Homo sapiens: one gene and its partner. The protein of the gene in region 1 interacts with the protein of each later gene in a biochemical or structural test. Each region holds a gene or a part of one and is shown on either strand. Other genes may lie near its edges. The genes, in order: KMT5A and TCF7L2.

Region 1 (8,634 bases):
TTTGAGAAGACAGGATCCTGGGTTTGTCAGGCAGGAGTGCCCTTGGCCTGTTAAGCCCCGTGTCCGCTATGGGCTATGACAGGGGGAGTGCCTAGCTCCAGCTCGATTTTTTGACCAAGACACTGGGCAGAGGTTTTAGGCTTTTGCATCTTGACGTGGGAGATAGAGAGCCTGTGAGGGAGAGGCACCAGAGACGGAGACGCTGGCAGGGTGCTTGATCAATAGCTTTCAGGAATCAGGTTGCAGACTCAGATCAAAAGCTCCATTCCTGAAGGCTGGGACAGCATTAGGGGACAGGAGTAAGGTGACAAAGCAGAAACTCTTCCCCAAGAGCTGCCTGGCACCCTTCATTTCAGACTCCGAAGAAAAAGAAGGTCCCCTTCTAGTGGGGTTGAAGCCCCAGGTTCACAGCAGTTCTCAGCATGGTGCCCCAGCAGACTGGCCTGGGTATCGGGAGACACACTGCAATGATCTGTCACTTAAAACACTTGTGGAGTGACAGTGTTGGAAAACTGCTTACCTTTTTAAAAAATGTTTTACTTTTAAATAACTAAGTAAATAGGCTGGACACAGTGGCTCCTGCCTGTAATCCCAGCACTTTGGGAAGCCGAGGCTGGCGGATCACCTGAGGTCGGGAGTTCAAGACCAGCCTGGCCAACATGGTAAACCCCATCTCTACTAAAAATACAAAAATTAGCCAAGTGTACTGGCGGACACTTGTAATCCCAGCTACTCAGGAGGCTGAGGCAGGAGAACTGCTTGAACCTGGGAGGCGGAGGTTGCAGTGAGCTAAGATCATGCCATTGCACTCCAACCTGGGCGAAAGAGTGAGACTCTGTCTCAAAAAAAAAAAAAAAAAGAAAAAAAAATTAAGTAAATAGTACGCTGCTCACAGATATAAAATGGTGCAGCCACTTTAGAAACAGTTTGACATTTTCCCAAAAAGTTAAACACAGAGTTACCATATGACCCAGCAATTTCACTCCTAGGCATCTATTCCAGAGAATTAAAAACATATGTCCCCAAAAAAATCTATGCAGGAACGTAACAGTTTATTTGTAATAGCCAAAAAGTGGAAACAACCCAAATGTCCATCAACAGATGAATAAACAAAATGTGGCCTATCCACAAAAGGGAGTATTATCCAGCCATAAAAAGGAATGAAGGGCTGGGCAGGGTGGCTCCCCTGAGGTCAAGAGTTCGAGACCAGCCTGGCCAAGATGGTAAAACCCCATCTCTACTAAAAATATAAAAACATTAGCCAGGCGTGGTGGTGTGCGCCTATAATCCCAGCTATTTGGGAGGCTGAGGCAGGAGAATAGCTTGAACCTGGGAGGCAGAGGTTGCAGTGAGCCAAGATTGCACCATTGTACTCCAGCCTGGGTGAGAGAGAGAGACTCCTTCTCAAAAATAAAAAAAAGGAATGAAGCACTGATACTTATTACACCGCGGATGAACCTTGAAGACATGATGCTCAGTGAAAGAAGCCAGACACAAAAGGCTATGTATTTTGTGATTCCATCCATATGAAATGTCCAAAACAGGCAAATCCACAGAGACAGAAAGTACTTTAATGGTTACCTTGGACTAGAGGGATGGGGAATCGAAGGTGACGCCTAATGGGTACCTTTCTGGGGTGATGGAAACGTTCTGGAATTAGACTGTGGTAATGGTTGCGCAACCCTGTGAATATACTAAAAACCACCGACTCATACGCTTTAACATGAACGTTATGATATATTAACTATATCTAGATAAACAAAACAGAAAAATAAATAAATACATTAGGCCGGGCACAGTGACTTCACCTGTAATCCCAGCACTTTGGGAGGCCAAGGCGGGTGGGCCACCTGAGGTCAGGAGTTCAAGACCAGCCTGGCCAACATGGTGAAACCCCATCTCTACTGAAAATACAAAAAATTAGCCGAGCGTGGTGGCGGGCACCTGTAATCTCAGCTACTTGGGAGGTTGAGGCAGGATAATTGCTTGAACCCGGGAGATGGAGGTTGCAGTGAGCCGAGATTGCACCACTGCACTCCAGACTGCAAGACAGAGCGAGACTGTGTCTCAAAAAAAACAAACAAAAACCATTAAAACCATCCAGATCTTTCTTCCTCCTCTACACACCTTCCTGGGTGAAATCAGAGAGAATTAAAGCCAGGACATCAGGCCCAGGAGTGTGTGGTGCCCGTGAACATTATCTATCACTCAGTCTGTATCACAGCAGAATCACGGACCACAGCCTGGACCTTGGGGTCTCCAAAGTCCAGCTGACCTAAATTCTTTTTATTTTTATATTAGAGATGGGGTTTCTCTCTGTTCCCCAGGTTGGAGTGCAGTGGCATGATCATAGCTCACTGCAGCTTTAAACTCCTGGGTGCTAGGGATCCTCCTGCCTTAGCCTCCCAAGCAGCTGGGACTACAGATGCATGCCACCATGCCAGGCTAATTTTTTTTGTTTTCATTGTTGTAGAGATGAGGCCTCACTATGTTGCCCAGGCTGGTCTCAAACTCCTGGGCTCAAGCAATCCTCCTGCCTTGGCCTACCAAAGTGCTGGAATTACAAACCCGAGCCACCATGCCCGGACTCTGACCCAAAATTCTAATCATGGCCATTTAGTAAAACCATGAGCCAAATATACTAGCTTGTATACCAGGCCACCATTTGGTACAATGTATAGACTGCCCTATTTTAAAGGACTAGAGTCCGGGCAACTACCATTTATAGACAGCGCCTCTCCCCAACCCTATGGGCAGGAATTCTAAGTGCCACAGGTCCAGGGATGAGCTGGCAGTCCAGGGGTGAAGAGCTGGCACATGGAGTCCACCACAAAGCCCTTTGGCATCCACGCTGCAACCACCCTTCAAAACAGTCCTGTGTGTGTGAGGTCAGACTCCTCTCTCCCCATTTACAGATGAGAGAACAGAGGCTCAGAAGAGAGCAGCAACCTATCTAAGCCTCCTTCTTTCAGGTGGCAAACTTAAGATTGGAACCCAAGTCATCTGAAGATCAAATAAAACAATATTGCCCTGTGTACCAGGGGAGATCAAGCACAGGGTGGGCTCCTGTCCCCAGTTCAGGGCTTGCCCAGCCCTGGTTCTCAGATCCGGCCCCAGAGGTCATGCCAAATCGTCATTTATGACACTTTCTGTTAGCGAACACAAGGCTTCCTTGTATGGAGCTGCTGGCAGCCAGAGGCTCTGCTTCTTTCAGACAAGTTTTAATTAGAAGAGAGCATGGTGAATTGGGGAAAGCTGACACTCCCCACTGCAGCTTTGAAAGGGAATATTTGGATTAGAGCAAGATGTCTAAGAGGTTTCAGTTTGTTTTGCAAGACCAGACCGTTTTCATTAACCCTGTATTTTCGGGTTTAACATTTTAACTCCAAATCTCATTGCATAGGATGCTGCTTCAGAAACTAACACCAAATGCTTGATTGGCAGGAAACTTTAGAAATGGGGTCAAGGCAGCTAGGCGCGGTGGCTCATGCCTGTAATCCCATCATTTTGGGAGGCCAAGGCAGGTGGATCACCTGAGGTCAGGAGTTTGAGACCAGTCTAGCCAACACGGTGAAATCCCGTCTCTACCAAAAATACAAAAATTAGCTGGGCGTGGTGGCGGCCGCTTGTAATCCCAGCTACTCAGGAGGCTGCAGCAGAAGAATCGCTTGAGCCCAGGAGGCGGAGGTTGCAGTGAGCTGAGATCGTGCCATTGCACTTCAGCCTGAGGGACGAGAGCGGAAATCCGTCTCAAAAAAAGAAAAAGAAATGGGGTCAAGGCCAGCTCATAAAAGGGAAGGAAGTCAGTTCCCTACATGAACACATTAGTTAGGTCTGCAATTGCCTGGTCTGTACAACCTGAATTCATGACTTCTGCACTTTCAGCACTTGTGAGCCTCTCTAATTGTGGGTCAGGTATGTTATTTTTGCAACTAAGCAAGACAATCAAGCTTGAAGGATATGCTAACTCTTGTGAAAGCAGGGAAAACCTGTCAAACCAACAGGGCACACACCCTGGGACAAGCCATTCTTTCAGCAGCAAGACAGAACATGGCTCAAACCTCTCGAATCTGAGACTGAAAAGGTTGGATAAATACATATGTGCATTCTTGCAGAGGACAGAGGCTTCTGCAACCCGACCAGCTGGGATCAGAACGAGGCCATTTCAAAAGCTTACCTTCTCGTTTCCTGTAGATTCCGGCTAATGGTTTCCCCTGGCATTTGACTTCGTGATGTGTAACTGAGTTCTCTTCCTGAAGGGGGAAACGCATTCCAGAGCATTTGTTCGGGCTCATGTAGGAATAGATCTTTGACTGCCCGGTAAATACGTTCTCCTAAAAAGACAAAAGCATATTCTGAAAGAGGCTTGAAGAAGAAGATCCTAGAGCATTCACGAGGAGGAGGAATACAAAAGATGAAAATCAGACAACACCGTTTTTCAAAAACTGGGCTACCAGGGGATGCCAGCCCCCATTGTCTCAGGAGAGCACTGGCAGGTTTAGAATCCCAGGTCCAGTGAAACGTTTCCTAAACGCGCTGGTCTCTAAATCACTAAGGGGACAGCTGGCCAGCAGGAGAGTCGGCTGCAACCCAAGGTCTATATAGGAAGAAGACAGCCTACCCGCAACAGGGAGGTCAAAAGGACCTGGGCATGTGAAGAGCTAGGCTATCTTTAGGAGTTCACTGCCCTGGCAGGAGCCGCAGGGACTCAGCACAGAAACACGCCCCGGGGAACCTGATTAACCACTTGGTGCTGAGGGCGGCTGGAGGGCCTGTCAGCACAGCCAGAGCCCCATGAGCGCCGGAGCCTGACCCCTCTCAAATCACTGCAGCCCCGCAGCCTCCAGGGCTGCGACGGGAGGACTTCTCTCAGGGTGACTGGGGAATCTGGGAAGAGCAGGAGCCACAGCCAGCGCATTCGGGGCGGCCACTTTGTCGCAAGCCGCACCTGGGCGTCAGTAAGAGAGTGGACGGGGCGGTGGGGCGGTTCAGGTCACTGCGGGCGCCTCTGGGCGTGGGGCCCCTCCTCTGAGTAAGTACAGACGGAGGAGGGCGTCCCCAGAAGCAACGCCGGGCCCTCGCCGCCTCGGGGACCATTCAACACCGAGGCGGTGAGACCCGTGACCTCTCCGAGGGGCCCGCGCAGGCCCCGCACAGCCTGGGACCGCGGCCACCTCCGGGGAAGTAGGGTCTTGGGCTGCGGAGACGCCACGAAGGCGCAGTCAAACTTTTCCGAGGTCAAACACCGCCAGGCTCATGGCGGAGCCGTGTGGGCGCCACTCCCAGCCAGGCGGCAGCAAAGGAAGCGGCCCGGCCGGGCGCCCCGGGCGGGTACCCGGGGTCGCCCATGTGCTCGCGGCCCCGGCCCGGCGGGCGCGCCGCAGGGGTGCGGGGAGGGTGCCTGCTTACCCCGTCGGTGCGGGGCCTCCCCGGGCCCCTCCGCTCCACCATCTCCGGGCCCGGGGCCGTCGCTGCCACCGCCGCCGCCGCCGCCGCCGCCTCCACCGCGCGGGGCTTGGACATCTTCCTGCCTGGAGAAGGGGACCCGGGGGAAGCGGGGGAGGGGGCGCTCAGGGCGCGGCGGGGCGGGGAGCGGGGCCGCCCGGGCCGGGCGCCGCGACGGCGCCTCCCGCCGCAGCCATATTTCGAGGCCCCGGCTCTGGTGAGCCGCCCGCGCAGCCGGGAGGGCCGGGCCGGAGCCCGCGTCGCCCTCCCGCCGCCCGGCCCGGCCAGGCCCCGCGCGCCGCCCGCCCCCCGCGCGGCCGGGCCCGACACACCCACCTGCAGCCCGGCCAGGCCCATGGCGGCGCGCCCCGCGCCCTCGCCGCCGCCACCAGCGCCGCCGCGGCGCCCCGGGGAAGGGCCGGCGGCGCCCCACGGCGCCCCCTTCCCCCATGGCCGGCGAGGCAGGGCCCGGCACCCGCGCACCGCGGCAGCCCCGGGCCGCCCGGGGCGAGGCACGAAGGGAAGGAGGCGCAGGCGGCGCGTCCTCCGCAGCCCTCCCGCCCGCTCGCAGCCGCCCACCGTCCGGCGCCCGGCCCGGGGAGGGGGCTGGTAGGGGCGGCGCCGCCAGGCCGCTCCGGAGGGCGGGCGGGCGGGCGCGGCGAATCCCGGCTCGGGCGCGCCCCCTCTCGCGCGGCCTCAGCCACTCGCGGAGGAAGGGGTGGGAAACACCGTCATGACAGCCCAGGCTCCCGCCCGCCCTCCCGCCAGCCCGCCCGGCTCCTTTTTCCGCTGGCTCTGCGGATATTTTGGGAACCCGGTCTGTGCCAGACGAAATCAGCAGCGGTGAACGCGCCAGGCCAGGCCCTCGGGTGTGCCCGGCGCTGTGCCCACCGAGAGTTTCACAGGCATTGAATCCTCCCCGCACGCCCACGGGGGCAGGTCCTGTCGGCATCCCAGCTTACAATGGTGACACTGTGACTCAAGGGATGTGCAGGGGTTTGTCCCGGGCCACAGAACTAGGAAGTGATGGGGCCAGGTGTCAAACCCAGAAGGGCTGTACTTGACCGGTAGGAAGCCCTGGGGAGACAGAGCCAGGGGTTATAATGATCGGTTTCCTGGGCGAGTCTCTTGCCGTTATCTCACTGAAACCTCACAGCAGCCCTGCAAAGGTAGACACCATTATTATCTCTTTTCAACAGATGGAGAAAGTGAGGAGCTTGGCCAAGTTCTCAGAACTAGATGGGTTTTCAGCCCCAGCCAACTGACCCCAGGGCCTTGCCCTCCCAGCCACTACCCTTCCTGGTTACAGATGAGGAAATGGAGTTTGGGAGAAGCAAATGGTCTTGCAGAAGGGTTTAACATGTCACCTTGTTCTCCTATCCCGCCGTGAGAAAATGCCCCCATAGGCAGACGAGGTTCCCGTCACTCTGGTGGCTGTTTCAGCATAGCTCACTGCCCTGCACCACTACTCTGTGGCCATTAAGGCTTGAGGGCCCACAGCCAGATTCACTGTATTTGTGCAAAGTCATAGATGCAAACAAGACACTTCAAGGCATCCAGCTCCTGCAGCCTGGCCCATGGCCTGGGAGTCAGGGGCTGGACTTATTTCCCTGCATCTGCCCAGAGGTGTTTTGTGACCATCGCCAAGTCACTTCCCCAGTCTGGGCCTCAGTGTCCTCATGGGTAAAAACCAAGAACCTTGAATTCCATAATCCACCAGAGCACCTTCCAACATCCACAGATAAGCAAATGGCTGTTTGTAGCCATCCTCCCACCTAGCCTCCCTCGACTCCCATTGGAACGGATAAGACTGAGTAGGATTAGGTGGTGACAGGTCACTGCTCAGACAATCCCTCCCAAATCAGCTCATGCTTTAGCATCCTTCAAGGCAGGGTCTCCAGCCCAACCACTAACTCCAGTGGGCTAGGTACTCTGCCTATGCCCTCTGCAGAGCCTACTACAGTTGAATATCCAAAAGATTACCCAGAGGGTGAAAGAGGATTCGAAAGTGACACTCTGATAACCAGGTTGAGCCATTTGAAAGCGTCTTCTATTTCTGCAAGGCAGAGAAGTTTTGCAGCTTAACTGCCATGAGAATCATGGTTTTGGAGCAGGAAGCACCCACATAGATCATCTTATCCATTTCACATTCTAGTATACCGAGCCACACCCCACGCCCCACTCATGGTCATAGCTTTCTCTGCATTTGAGCCCCCAATTGCAGGGGACACATTACAAGTCTAGCACCTATTCCTCTCAATTCTGCAGCTCCAGTACCTAGAAGATGTAAATACAGATCATTCAATGTAAGTTTCAAAACAGTCCTTTCTCCGCAAGTTTATACGTATATAACAAATACACCAGCTGGGCGCAGTGGCTCACACCTGTAATCCCAGCACCTTGGGAGGCAGAGGAGGGCAAATCACCTGAAATCAGGAGTTTGAGACCAGCCTGGCCAACATGGCGAAACCCCGTCTCTACTAAAAATACAAAAATTAGCTTGGCGTGGTTGCGCATGCCTGTAATCCCAGCTACTTGGGAGGCTGAGGCAGGAGAGTCACTTGAACCCAGGGGGGTGGAGTTTGCAGTGAGCCAAGATTGTGCCACTGCACTCTATCCTGGGTGACAGAGTGAGACTCTGTCTCCCAAAAAAAAAGAAAAGTCTGTATTTTTGGAGACCCCCCCACCAGGTGCTAAGGGATAATGAACTGAAGATGGCAAAATGAGGAGGGCAACCAACCAAGAGACCATTCAACAATGGCAGTAGAAATAGTGAAAGGTAGGTGGACTGACCCCTGAGACTAATATATTGGGGTTGTAAATATTTGCATGATTATAAAACTTCAAAATGAGTGAGGTGTTGCCTGGCATCTGACCAGTTTGTTTCTGTGACCCAGCAGGGCTCTCAAAGTGAATTGCAAGTTCAAAGCCCAATTTTCTAGAAGAAAAAGACTGTTCATTTGAAGTGCTGTAAATGATTTGGTATTTACAATTCTAAATATTGGCCAGGCGTGGTGGCTTTTGCCTGTAATCCCAGCACTCTGGGAGGCCGAGGTGGGCAGATAACCTGAGGTCAGGAGTTCAAGACTAGCCTGGCCAACATGGCGAAACCCCGTCTCTACTAAAAATACAAAAATTAGCTGGGTGTGGTGACAGGTGCCTGTAATCCCAGCTACTTGGGAAGCTGAG
Region 2 (8,634 bases), on another chromosome or scaffold:
CTTTGGAAGGCCGAGGTTGGGGGGGGGGGGGTCACCTGAGGTCGGGAGTTCGAGACCAGCCTGACCAACATGGTGAAACCCCGTCTCTACTAAAAAATACAAAAATTAGCCGGGCGTGGTGGCGCATTCCTGTAATCCCAGCTATGAGGGAGGCTGAGGCAGGAGAATCGCTTGAACCCGGGAGGGGGAGGTTGCGGTGAGCGAGATCTAGGCATTGCACTCCAGCCTGGGCAACAAGAGCAAAACTCCGTCTCAAAAAATAATAATAAAATAAAATAAAAACCAGGTTCCCAGGCTGGGCGCAATGGCTCGCGCCTGTAATCCCAGCATTTTGGGAGGCCGAGGAGGCCGGATCATCTGAGGACAGGAGTTCCAGACCAGCCTGGCCAAGATGGCGAAACACCATCTCCACTAAAAATACAAAAATAAAATTAGCCCAGCATGGTGGTGTGCGCCTATAATCCCAGCTACTCGGGAGGCTGAGGCAGGAGAATTGCTTGAGCCGGGAAGGCAGAGGCTACAGTGAGCCAAGATCGCACCACTGCACTCCGGCCTGGAAAACAAGAGCGAAACTCCATCTCAAAAAAAAAAAAACAGGTTCCCATCTGCCTCATCTCTTGGGACTGTCCTGCACCAGTCACCAGGAGTGCTCCAAGACCACTCCACATCATTTCCTCATCCGGCAAACATGGCTGCTCTCACCTGGCTGTGCCTCACACCTTCAAAATGGCACTTCCCTGCCTGGAGTACCCAGGGAGTCACCAGATGAGAACTCCAGCGTATTTTCCATTTCATTGCTTCCCATGAAGCTCTCAACAAAAATCAGTGACCAAGCCCATCCCCCATTCTACTACCCACAAATGCCTCAGCCCTCACTTGTCCAGAGGAAGAACGGTGAAGACTCGGCAGTTCTCAGCACAGGCTTGCAAAATTCTTCAGCAATGTAAAGACCAACATTTTAAGATTAACCCCTTCCCTTATTATCATCATATCTAGATTCTTCATCTTATTTCTAATCACTACTGGGCTCTAAATTTGATGTTTCTGATATGCAAAACATCAGAGATACCCAGACATGGAATGGGAAACAGCTTTTTTCAACCACAGGAATCTCCTCCTCAAAGACAATTAAAACAATTGAAATCCTCTGTTGGTTTTTCCAGCACTAAGCTAACTTCTAACATGATGCACATTAATTTTTGATGCCTATTCGTCCTGCTAAATTGGGAAGAGGTGGAACATTTACTTTATTTTCAGTTTTATGAATCACCTGGCTTTCTCTTATCTATATTAAAAAAAAAAACAGATCATTTCCTAGGAGGTGTTAGTTTTTTTGGTCCACTTTCCTCTCTACCCTGTAGCTGCTACCATGAGCCACTTGAAATCTAATTTCCATGTAATTACCTTAAGAAACAAAATACTTTTTTTTAGTATACCTAAGACCTTTTCTTAGGTCATTAGTCATTTGAGCAACCACAGGCCATTATAAGCCCAGCTTCCCCTACCCCACTGCCCCCAGTCCTGTGTTGAGAGCCTTTTACATTTAATGGGAAATAAACTTTTGACCAAGACTTTGGGTGACTGCCTGCCCTTATAAAAAGTACCAAGGGGGGCCTCTGACTTCAAGAGAAAAGGCAAAACCAGCATTGCCTGGTACTTGAGCTTAAACATTCCTGCAGAGATCTAGACACTGAACATTTGTACCATCCCTAAACAATAACTTAACGACAGCATCCCCTTTCACTTCCTGGCATTCTGCCTCAGAAATTCTGCTGCAACAAAATGCATGCCTTTAGACACAAGAACAATCTCTCCTACTGTCTCAATGTTCCATCAAATGTCTATTTACCCTCATTAATTTTTCTTTTCCTCAACCTGAAACCATCAGCTATGAGTCAGAGAACGATCATTAACTTTTACAGCTTCTATACGTATCCACCTACTCACATTTGGGGAAAGAAGTATTGACTTGCAACATTGCCTGAGACCAAAATTCTCTAAGAAGAAAAAAAGGGGAAAAAGTCGCTTCAAGAAAGTTTTATCTGTAGGTCTGCGGGGAAATGCTATGTTCATCGTTTCTCCACTTTGTGCTGCAAAGTCTCGCAAAAAAAAAAAGTTGAGCTTGAACTTCTTTATGGTGATGGGCATTTCTGGGTTGATTTTTGAGAAAAACTAGATGATTTTCTTTCAACGTCAAAACATAATTAAAGCTCTTAAACTGTCTGGGGGAAAAAATAAAGTGAATCAAGTTTCCTGCTCTTGTACAAAACATATTTCTAGCATATAGAAAAACACGTGGGCTGAAGTGCTGAGACATGTTCCTAACACAGCATTTTTCATTAAAAGTTGCTACACTAAAACTCTTAAAATGATGCCCCATCATTACTCCACTTAGCAGTCGCAGTGCTGCAACTCATAACGAATTAATTTGCATTAATGTGGGTTTCATGTGTCCTTCCCTGGGTATGCCATTGTGATTCAGGCTTAATAAAACTGACACGACAACAACATAGTGCCTTTTATTTCACTTTCCAAAACAAACCAACCCACCCAAAGACCCACACAAATCCTCTCAATTTTTTAAGCATTTTACTAATATATTTTAGTACATCATAATTGGCCCAGCACGAAGGAATCTAGTTATCTTCTCAGTAAATATTTATAGCGTCACTCTTTCCCATTCATTCTGCATTTTCTTAGAGAATCTCACTGTAGCCTACATCTGCAATTCATTGACTTTACAATTTACCACATGTTGGGATGGGAGAGGTCTTAGCTCCATTTGAATCACTACACAAATATGCAAGTGATTTATCGGTTTCAAGCTGAAGACTGCAAGAGAGGGACTCCACTTTTCCTGAACATTACTTCTTCTGGCAGACCATGAACAATTACAGTGCGTACTAATTAAGCTCTGTAAATGTGCTGTGCCCTGCTAATGCCTACCAGGCCTCAAATTTATTTTCATGATGCCAAACTTTAGGGAGCAATTTTAACTCCTTCAGGGCTGATGCCACTCCTGGCCATTCCTTCCTCCGTAGACCGACCTGGTTGGGGCTACTGCATGACAAAAAGAATAAAATATAACAGGTCGAATTACTAGCCCGAAATCAGATGTGCCTAAGGAGAAAAAACCTATCTTGGGAAAAGCAAAGAACACCTCGGCTGATAACCCGTTCAAAGATCCCACAGCCCCTTCTTTGTAATGAGCTGTTTAGGGATTCATATCTATCCCTGAGGGCTAGTAAGTTTCTGCATGCCATTGATTAGAAAAGAAAACCTTTCGGCCTGGGTCTTTAAGTTTGGGTTGGATGGAAGGAAGGATCCAGTCAGAAATGAGAGCCATCATCTCTCCTGGCCTGGCAAACACCTTTGAATCTCACTTCCTCCTTATACCGCGTAGTCAGTTTGTAATACACCAGAACAGCCCACTTTTTCAACATAAATTAAAATCAGCAGGACAACTGGCCTTCTCTCTCACACTCCAGTCTCCACCACAGATAATGCCTCACCCTCAGATGCTTACACAGTAACTGATAGGAAACACATCTGTGGCTAGGTAGAACACCCTGGGTAATGAAGGGATCGCAGCCCATCTTTGCTGAGCAAAGCAATATCCCTTTTTAATAGCCCAGCCCAGGGTACTCCCACGCCCCTCCATAAGGAAACTTCCAATCTCCAATTTCAATTCCCCCAAACCCAAATCTTTGTTCTCTTGTATTATACTTTTCTTATCTTTCTTAGGCATTTATTCTGTCTCCTCTGGCTACTTTTCTGTGCCTCCTCCCGCAGATACCAGTACATTTTTCACAAATAAGCAGCCCTCCCATCCCCAGTGTAAACCTGGATTTTTTTTCCCCTCACCTATTATATTCTTTTAGTCAACTCTCTTCACCTCATCTCACTTTTTTAAAAACTCTCACGTTAACTAGTTTAACTAGTGTACTATGTAATGTGTACATTTTCCCTTCCACTCAGGGGAACATCATATAAATTAAAGAGCCGTCTCCCATACCAGGTTTCTTTAAGTATTCCTGGGGAAAATGCACAATATAGGCAATGTAATCTCAAAAAAAAAAAAAAAAAAAAAAAAAAGGTGGGGGTGTTGGGGGGAATTAAGAAAAGAGAAAGAAAGGAAAAAGGGAGAAAAGAAAAGGGAAAAGATGCAAACACCTAGAGCAACTTTGCTTTTGAAAAAGGCATCTGTGCAGAGCCCCCACTGAATTTCCATTCCTGAAAGTGCTCTTTATAAATGTGTATAACAATAGCCTAGAGGAAACGTACAAGTCAGCTGCCAAAGGAGTGGTGGCGTCTGTCTCAGTAAACTCAAGATTGTAGAGGTGGGGGTCAGCGGAGAAGGGAGGGCAGCATTTGCATTAGGATACCACCACCTCCCCCCATCTCATTGCTTATAATTAGTGAGAGAAATCTGAGCTACTGCCAATGTCTGCGGACCTTGAATATTATAAGGCCAACGTGGCGTCAAATATCTTAACATTCATAAGTGTTATGGGCTGTAAATAAAGCCTGTGGATTTATGACCTGGTGGTGCGCTTGCCAGCAAAAAGACTGGGGCACATTTCTTTCAGCAGACCTGTCGAGGTGCGAGTTTGCCTTTGGTTGTAAAATTAACCATTTCCTTCACAAATGTGCTCAATTATAAGTCAGAGTTGAAGATTTACTTACATAGTTGCCAATATTCACTCCCAGAAGAAACTCAGATGCCCACATCACACACCCCTTTGAAAATAAGACCCTCAAGAATTTGGTTCAGCCTCCTTTTCCAAACTTTAAAATGTGTCACCTCAAAAGAATTATAAATGCAGTCAAAGATATTATCTAATGCCACTCACCAAGACTAAAAAGCTTACACTTACTTCCCTGGAAAGTGCTTATTTATTTGGCAACTCCAGCATTTAAAAAAAAAAAAAAAAAAAAAAAGGTAAATCACTCCTTGCCTGAAATCTCCTCCCTTCCCCCAATATAATGTCATCTACTTCCTGTGCAGGAGAGAGCATTTGCTAAATCCAGGTTGTCTCATACTTAACTGCCAATAAACCAACTTCCACATAACTTCCAGACAGCTGGGGGAAAGGTCCTCGGAGTTTTAGTCATGGTCCAGAAACACGCGTCCACACAAAAATTTGCAGCTGTCCTTTCTCTACAGTGCATTTTTAATGTGATTCAGGGGGGCCTGTTGTGAAACATCTGACAAAATGTAAAATCCTCTTAGATACCTTCTAGTTTACCCACTGCACGTGTGTAAGAGAAGTTGCACCAGGATTTCTCCACCGAGAAATCTAGGCACTTTTTGCACACAGCCAGGGGCACCTCGTGGGATGTAAGGAGGCATTCGAAACCTGGAAAGACTTCTACTGTAATCTTTAAAAGCACAGCCTCTGGTGCAACTATTAAAATGCTAGTTTTCTAAAGCAAATATTTTTTTCAATGGCGTGCAGAACTGCAGCGATCCAGCACGGCAAACAGAACAGCATTCTTGATCTGCAAGCCCCTGGAAACCTTCCGGTAACTTTTTCACAGCTTGCTAAGAAACAGAAAGCTGACCAACTTCCAGCAATGACTCTAAATGAAATCCCTATCAGTAAAATTAAAATCAAGGTGAAGAACTCCTAGCAAGAACGAGGATTGTTTTCCTCAAAAAACTCTTTCTCAATCAGACACAGAGGGCATCAGTCAAAGCTCCTTCCCTTAAACAGTCAAAAGTTTCCAAAAACACGTCTTCCAGATAAGCTCGTTAGGCTCCCAAATGCCTGAGTTTGTTTCTGGGATTTCAGAAAGTTTCAATATCAACAAAGTGGAAAGCGCTGGCATATTTAATTTATAATCATTAAAATATGACTTATTGGGTGAATGTTGAGCCTATAATCCATACTGCAGACATTAAACCCCAACCTATAAAGATTAGCATGGAATTAATACGGTTGCATTGAGATTGAAATCTAAACATGTTCGCCATAAATATTTCTGAAGGAGATGAAAAACAATTAGCATAAATACCAAAGAAGGGTAAGAACACCTGTTCTTTTTCAGGGCGATAAGCATTTTATTGTTCTCTATTTAAAATGTAATGACCTGTGTAATTACAGTAATATTACATTGTTATGTAGGGGCTTGGAATGTCACACTTTGAAAAGTGTTGTCAAAACAATCAGGGGTGAGGTGGGGGGGTGGGAGGACAACTGGGAAGGACCACCATTAACCCTTCACACTCCAAGGTCTAAATCTTTTGTATTAGAAAGGATTATGTTGTTTCAGTGAGGAAAAAACGTCCATTTTTCACAAGCCAGAAAGAGAAGTTGCCCGGCTAAATAAAATCCCAATGAATAGGCCCCTCTCGGTTTCCTTTAAATGCTGGATTCCAAGTTCAAAAATGAATTCAAGATGCAGCTTATTTATCTGTTCAACCTAGTAGCAAAGAGCTCGGTTGAAAAGCAAATAACTTTGGATAAGAGAAGATGCAAGGGCTCGAATAATCAAGTCCTTAAAAAGAAATTTCAAACCTAACTGGAATTTCAACCACCATATTCCTATTTCCACTTTGCCAGGAGGGAAAAAGAAATGTAAAACTACTTTTTCCAATCAACTTTAATAGGTTACAGTATTCTTATCTTTAATATACAAATGTTACCACAGTTCTAATATTTGCAGTTCTAACACTTCCCATCTACTTAACTAGACCTCTCCTTAATGCAGTTTTGTATCTGAATCTGTCTTTTTAAAAGCCATTCCTATTACTGAATCAAAGACTAAATTAATATTATGCAGAAATCTTTGTCATTTTAAAATAAAATTATTACTATCAAGCTTTATGGTGTCTTCAGCAATTAAAGCATTATTCTTGAGATAATGTATTATTCATCATAAGCCGATTTAATGATACTCTCTAATTCTTTACATTCTTAAATAAAAAAGCAGAAATCAGGGTTCCAGAGAGTTTGCTTTTTAAAGGATGCAGCTGCTTACAGGTACACCATAAGTAACAGAAAATGTAGCAAAAATCACCGCCACCAAGGAGCAAAGGGAAAATAATAAAGCATACAGCGAAATTTGTCTTTACACCTTGCCATTAAAAACACACCCTATAAAACACTAAGGATTTCAGAAGAGTATGGGAAGCCCGCTATCTTGCCTATGCATTCCTCCATTCCTCCCGCAGCTGTATCAAATCTGGATTGCAAGCTGGCCTTCTGATTGAAGACGTCAGGAATGACACACAACAGCCTACCATCCTCATTTCCACTGCTCTGCTGACCAGCCTAAATAAATAACTTTAATTTTGGAGCACATAATCTAACCCAGGTAACAGGGAGGAAGGACGAAGGGGCAGTGTACACAAAGATGTCTGCTGGTGTTTGACATGTAAGTACTAAAACTGCCTACTGAGTTCAGAAATGTGTTCTGAGACTCAATCTGATGTCACAGCACCAGGCCACCCGCTATGTCCACAATTAAAATAACTAGACGCCGTCTATTCCTATAATGCCCACAAAAGGGACCGATCATTGGGAGCCTTCCTTTTCTCACCGGGAAATCATTTATTTGCCTTTAGCAATTTCCCTGTTTGCTAATTACAAGACAACACAACTGCTCAAGTTTGAGAAGGGATGGCAAGATTGCCAGTATCAGACAGCGAGTTTAAAAAGAGTCAAGAAAGCTAGCAAGCCCGCCATCAAAGCTCAATATTCAGATGGTTAAGTGGATTTTAAAATAATACCAGGGAGGTTTCCATCGGAAGGGGGAGGGGAGGAGAGGCAGAAATTCTCAGGGATTCTTTGGAATGTTGCTTGGTCCGGTTTATTGGTAGGCGAACACTGCGATTCTGAGCCGAACGGTCCCGTTTAAGATGCCCCACAAGCTCCCAAGAAAAATACAAAGTAAGCGAACTGTGCTTCCCCTACAGCTGCAAGCCCAGAGCGCGGCCCCTGCAGCCTGGTGGAACTGGCCCTGGAGAAGGGGGTTGAGCCGAACCGCTCTCCCAGCTTCCCAAGCATGTCTGGGCGCCGGGCAGGGGGGGAATAATTATTTCTCTTCCCTAGCCATAAAAAAAATGACCGGTCTAGCATGCCCTTGCCATTTTGCCAGGGCCCAAAAAAGCAAGTCAAACCTGATAGTTAATATTTTAATGCTTAAAAACACTTGTAGATCTGATCGACTCCCGTCCGGCAAGCCCTCGGCCATTAGCACCGAATCCATGGCTGCTGAACAGTGGGTGCATTATTTCAAATTGCTATCTAGAGTTACCGAAAAAGAAAAAACAAAAGTCGTGTGTGTAAATAAGGGGTAGGGGACCAAACTGGAGAAGGTGTAAAATGACAATACCGGGAAGCCGGGCACAAATGCGTCTTGCGTCCAGGGATTCGTAATCCAGGCTTCTTAGAAGAGGGAGGGAGGGATGAGGAGGAGGGGGTTCAGGGTGAGGGCAGGGGGCACAGGCCGGTGGGGGAGGGGATGAGCCGTATTAACAAATGTCAGGGTTGGGCGCGGGACCGACCCTGCAGGAAGCGCCCCCCGAGCCCGGCACCCCGCGCTGCCCTGGGGCCCCCAAAGTTGGGTGGCCGGCGATCGGCGGCCCACTCCCTTGAAGGAGAGGCGCCCCAGCCTCCCTCGGCCCCC

Evidence for each region.
Region 2: the proteins of KMT5A (region 1) and TCF7L2 form a complex in vitro, tested with the Homo sapiens proteins (one study listed by BioGRID).

Annotation. Positions count from the first base shown.
Region 1 is NC_000012.12:123,386,330-123,394,963, reverse strand, and holds part of KMT5A (N-lysine methyltransferase KMT5A), read right to left. Parts: intron 6,054-8,634; exon of another isoform or gene 5,897-6,053; coding exon of another isoform or gene 5,782-5,896; intron 5,532-5,781; coding exon 5,410-5,531; intron 4,928-5,409; exon of another isoform or gene 4,622-4,927; intron 4,335-4,621; coding exon 4,178-4,334; intron 3,690-4,177; exon of another isoform or gene 3,534-3,689; intron 1-3,533. UniProt on the Homo sapiens protein: Protein-lysine N-methyltransferase that monomethylates both histones and non-histone proteins. Specifically monomethylates 'Lys-20' of histone H4 (H4K20me1).
Region 2 is NC_000010.11:112,952,652-112,961,285, reverse strand, and holds part of TCF7L2 (transcription factor 7-like 2), read right to left. Parts: intron 1-8,634. UniProt on the Homo sapiens protein: Participates in the Wnt signaling pathway and modulates MYC expression by binding to its promoter in a sequence-specific manner. Acts as a repressor in the absence of CTNNB1, and as activator in its presence.